Regions from separate parts of the Homo sapiens genome. Here region 1 is linked to region 2. A link means that fine-mapping ties the variant in region 2 to the expression of a gene that starts in the linked region. Tissue or cell type: skeletal muscle. Region 2 holds a variant in brackets; the other region holds the start of a gene. All regions are shown on one strand. Distances are between the middles of the regions.

The links. PIP is the estimated chance that this variant, and not a neighbour inherited with it, causes the effect.
Region 1: it holds the start of ROBO1, and the variant in region 2 is fine-mapped to the expression of ROBO1 in skeletal muscle (GTEx, PIP above 0.99).

Annotation. Positions count from the first base shown.
Region 1 is chr3:79,766,477-79,769,249 of GRCh38, reverse strand. ROBO1 (roundabout guidance receptor 1) reads left to right here and starts at 1,252. Exons shown (of 31, transcript NM_002941.4): 1 at 1,252-1,498.
Region 2 is chr3:79,010,431-79,013,203 of GRCh38, reverse strand. The region is part of intron 3 of ROBO1 (roundabout guidance receptor 1); the gene reads left to right. Among named protein-coding and RNA genes, the nearest start is that of MIR3923, 500 kb to the left of the region's middle. The variant A/C (reference allele first, on the strand shown) is at 1,134.

The sequences.
Region 1 (2,773 bases), 760 kb before region 2:
TTTAGTTTACACATAGGTAGTGAATTTATAGGTTGGTTGATGTTAACCTTATCCAGAGTGGCCCTTTCCAACAATGTTCATTCAGTTGTACATTACATATATGTAATAATTTTGTAATTAAATTGGAATTTATCACAATTATTTACATCAAAGACAATAAAATTATGTTACTTCCTAAATTATAATATCAGTAAATATCGTATCTAGGATTTTGTGGAAAGTCTATGTCATTTTAGTTTAAATAAGGATTTCTCTTTTCCTCCACAAAATTAAAGGTCAAAGAAAACAGCATGTTTAAGACTTCAAATTAATATATATTAAGATTCAGCATTTAATATTCTAATTCTTAAAATAACTGGCTTTACCGATGATGAACTAAAGTGATTTTGCACACTATTACAATATTTCAAATTGCTAGTCACCACAGGTCGGCCTCACTTTAAATCTCCTTGTTATGCCAATTTGCATTACTAATGAACTTGCTAAGAGAGAAACTGTAAAAAGATAATGTAGCAATTAATAGTAAATGCTTGACATACTGTGACATTATAATACCTTTATGTTGATTTATATCTTTATGTCAATATTTACAAGGAAAATATTTTTGAATTTCTAATTTTGCGAAGTAAAAATGATGCTGACGCCATTGTCATTGATGGAATTTTTTCTGTAGCATTTGACTAATATAACCCGTGTTTTATAATTGGTAGACTCATATTTTAGCTTCTACTATCTACTACCCATGTAAGGTATTTTATTTGTAGTAGCTATGAATTGTAAATACAATTGGGTGTTGTGTGTACCTACGTGAAGTGCAGAAGTATTTGATTATATAAAATTTCCTGGATTTATATGAGAATAATGCATAATAGAGAGCAAAAGAGGGTTTTCCTGCCAAAAGTGTCTGTGTGAATTTTCCTTCGAAAATGTTCTTTTAAAATCCTTTGTATGATCAAAGCCACTCCACACAGACAATTAAAAGCAGCTATGGAATGATAGATCACATGACAGGAGTTAAATGTAAGGGTTTTTTTTTTTTTTTTTCCTCCCCCCTCGGTTAAACATCGCAGCAGGCATTACAATACCAGAGGTAACGAATCAATTAAATCCATTTTCCCCTCGGCGTCTCCAAAGCTGCGTGCCTAGTGTTGCTGTGTAGTTTAGACCGGAGCAGTAGGACCCAGGGGCCTCCGCAGCCACCAATAGAAGCGCACACTTGGACCTATTTGTATGCAATGCCTTCTGCTCTGCGCATTAATAGTAATACAGATAACGGGTTTGAAAGAATTCTCTACTGAAGAAGGATTGAATTTTTCCAGGGTGCTGATACAGAGAAGAAACCCGACTTCACTCTCTCCCTATTTCCCCACTCTTAGGTTTAAAAGTCTGTCACCTTTCGCTTGGTTTAAACTCGGAAAGGTCTCAGTGCACAGCAAAGTTGCAGGGCTGCGTCTGCACTACGGAGCCTCTAGATTGCTGAAAACAGTCTTATGGAAGGGTAAGTCTCGGAAATGGTTGCAAGGGAAGTGACAGCTGGCTTTTGATTTGTAAAAGGGGACACGCTGGGTTTTACACTAGTGGTTGTTGGAGTGCAGAATGGTTGCCGAGAGGACTCTGCAGTTTATCCAGAAATTGTGGCTGATGCGCCAGGGTGTTTTGGGGTAGAATCAAAAACCTTCAGGCTAAATCGGAAATTGCAGCCTTGCGATCGGGAGGGATTCAACAAGTTTTCCTGCAGGGATGCGATGTTTGTTTCTTCCTTGCCAGTTGTGCAGAGTGTCCGTTCCAGGTAGGCTGCGGCTGCTTAACAAAGAAGTTTTGGAATTTGTTTGTTGTGTGTGTGGCTGGGCTAACCCTTGTTGGAGTAGGTTTCGTGCCGCTTTTGGCTTCTTGGGGGCACACAGCGGAATTTGCTCTAGGGATGCGGCGAGCATCAGCGGTGTAGTGGGCTGGGGCCGGGCAACTTTGCAGCCTAATCTCAGTGCCGCTGACCGCACCGTTGTTCGTGATGTGAGCTGACTGAGGCATAGACACGGGCAGGCTGCAGGGAGCTTCCAAACTTTGAAAGCATTCTCCAGGAATGGATGCGCGTGGGGGCTTTGAAAATAAGCGTTACTAGGTGGATTTTGGTAAACTCTTGGCGGTATGTAGGCAGTGGGGACTTTTGACACTTGCATTTCCAACCTGCAGGATTTTGCTTGAAAACATGGTGCTGATGTGAAGACGAGAGCTTAAAGCTAAGCCAGCGGGGACTTTGAGGGAGGAAATGAGGGAGGGAAGGAGGAAGAATGAGAGAAGACAGATGAATGAAAAAGGTGCGTCCCATCTTTCACACACAAAAACCACACGAGTGGGACGAACCAGGAAGCGCTCCAGTTGGTGGCGTTTAGCTGGAAAACGTATTGCAGGGAGGTCCAGGAGCCTCTGCATTATTGATGAAACGCCGTGCCCTTCTGGGGCCCCTTCTTGCTCCTTCTCCCTGCCCCATCTTGCCAGCCCCGCTTCCATGAGCCTTCGGTTCCAGCGTTGGCGCGGGTGCGGCTGCGCGCGCGGCTGGGTCCCACAGCTCTGAGAACACAATGGGGAGAAGCAGGCGAGCCCTGCGGGCGGCCGATGCGGAAAACTCGGCGTGGCAACCCCACTGCTGCAGCCTGGGCTGCCGCTCCACCCGGGGCAGCGGCGCTGCAGAGACGGCTTCTGCCCAGTTGCCACGCGCCCTGAGGTCTCGGAGGACCGCGTGGAGGGCGCTCACACCTGGCCGCTAAAATCCTGG
Region 2 (2,773 bases):
TACTCCTCACTGAAGAGCCTGTGGAGAGACAATCATTTCCCCTGTGGTTGCTCTTAGGCTCTGGGTTGAGTATGGGCTGGTGATCATTTAGTAGATGAGCCTTCTGCTTGACTGCTGTTCACAGATAACTCACTTCATGGTTACTGATCATGGAAGGGTTGAGCCTTAATACCTGGTTGATCAGCTGGTTGGAAACTGCTTATGCATAGCCAATAAAGTTGCCATCCTGTGGAGATCAAAAGGCTACCTCCATTCTTTACAATTCTTGATTAGCATGATTTCCTTTCCCCTTCTCCCTCCACTTTCAGCCCCTTCCTTCAATCTTGCTGTTGAAGAAGAGGAAGAAAAAAAGATGATCTGTAGTGTACAGGGAGATAGCTTTGATCTCCACTGCTTTGCTTTTTCCTCTCTCTTTTTTAACCATCCAAAAGGCTATTTCTAACACCGAAAGGTGTCATGTTGCTTGCTTCATGGGAGAGCTCAGCCTCATTTCCCTTCAGCCAAAACAGGCTGCTACAAATCCTCTTACTTCTGTGATTTTACTTGGCTTCCAAATGTCTTATGACAGTGTTATTCCACACATAAAATAATATTTTGAACAGCATGACTGTGCATATCTTTCTGACTTTATTCAAAGAGAGAAGTACCTCTGTGGCGTTCACAGCTGTCCATGGCTTAGAGCCGGAAAATAATATTCTGTTTATTTTGTTTAATTAATTCATATTATTTTGAGGGGAAAGTGGATAGAAGGTAAGCAATTGTAGAAAATGTTCTAGGGTCACAAGATGAGACTAAATAGTCTATCTGGGCTTAATGCTTGTCACCTAGTTTGACACTTAAATGAAGCGTTAAAAGCACCATCAAAGGATACAAGCAAATGTCAACAGAGCAGTGTGGTTCTGTGTTAAGTGGGAATATAGTCTTTTTGTGTCAAGTGATTGCTTTGTATGCAGCATATAGGAAATAGTCGGTTTTGGTTCCTAATAATACAGTATTTTGGGGATCTATTTTTCAAATCATGTTAGTCTTTCAGTTAAGTAGAGCAAGGTTTACTAGAAAACATTTTTAAGCTACTTCTGGCAATAACAGCTCACAGTTAAAACACTTTCTCAAGATGCTCTTGGTTAGATTTC[A/C]GAAAGTATCAAGTTCAAAGTATGTCTAAATTCAACTCATGTGTACAGGACCTGAGAGCTGGGGACAGCTTGTCCACAGTCAGCCATGAAAGGAGCGTGGAGTCCTCAAAGCTCTCCTCTAAGATTATTTGCAGTGTTCTGCTTGAAACACAGTTCGTATGCCCAGTTTGTATAGAAAGTAAAAGAGCAAAAAAAATTGTTATGTATGACTAGTAAGTTCTTGAAAAGCCATTTCAGGTATATGTTATCTCTTGATTTAACTTACAATTTCAATGAGCATAACAAGATAGTATTCATATGACATAAAAGTCTTTGGATCATGTTAGGTATGGTCATAATTTATGCAACATTATGAAAACATATATATAATATATTATGAAAAACATATATATTTATATATAAATATATATAAAACATTATGAAAAAAATATATATAAAACACCAACTTGCTAAGTTCATTCCTGGGTTTTGGTAGAAGGCTAGATTTTAGCTTCTCTGCACTAACGTGATTGAAGCCCTTTTATGTTATTAGCAATTTCAGGTAGAGTAGGAAAAGAACATGAAGCCAAAGAATGAATGAATCAGGTCACAAATGTCTGTTTCAATATCATTTGGCAACACAGTGCTAATGAGATACACTAAGTCTCATAATTTGATCTCCAACTTAACTTGCCTGCTGTTACATTTTCTTGTTTAGCACGTGATTTTCTTTTTTCACTAATGGTGGACTTTTAATTTGGCTAAAGAAATATATCTATCTGCAATTCCTTTCCTATACAAGAACATGTCCGCTTTTTAGTTGCATAGCTCTAAAGCTGATTTTGTATACTTAGGCTTTATTGAAAAGGAAGCCTGTCACTCTGAAACTTCACTAAAATTGTCCTTGCTCATACAACAAAGTGAGTTAAAGTACCTTTGTATGTGTTAACTACACATACCTCTGGGTAGCTTTCAACTTCTTTAGTTGCTTGGTTTGGGAAGTAATTTCAGTATATCCAGACCGTTCCATTAGCAAGTTGTCTGAGTAAAGTAAACCATCTTGTACAGGCTGTGGAAAATAAAACTCATCTGTTCATTTCCCTTGTATCTGAAGAGAAGTGAAAATTTCCTAGCAATCTGGTAGAACGACCACTTTCTAAAATGAATGAATTTAGTAATATATTTCCAAAATCTAAATCTGTAGAAGAAAAACTGGGGAGACGTAAAGCTTTCATTCAGATATCTATGCAAATAGGAGGGGCATTCACTGACAAGATCATTGCTATTAATCTCCATGAATTCAGATTGAACACAAGCATCCTAAGAACAGCTTTGATTTAAATTCAGTAGGGTGATGAAGAAAAAGAAACTCATTGTGGTATTTGATCTTTTCTCCTGTCATAGGTCATTGAATCTTAAGAGCTCATTGCTTTTTAGGAGTCTATATGTAGATATAGATAAATAAATATATGTGTTTACATGATGAAAAAACCCAAGTGACTTATTAAATGATGATCGATGTAGTAGTATAGGCCCAGTTGTATACACGGAACCTGAAACACTAGGAATCAATAATATCTCTAATAATAATGGTAATACTGATAATGCCTAAAAGTTACAGAGTGTTGTTATCTGCTTGACAAAGTGCTAACATGCCTTAT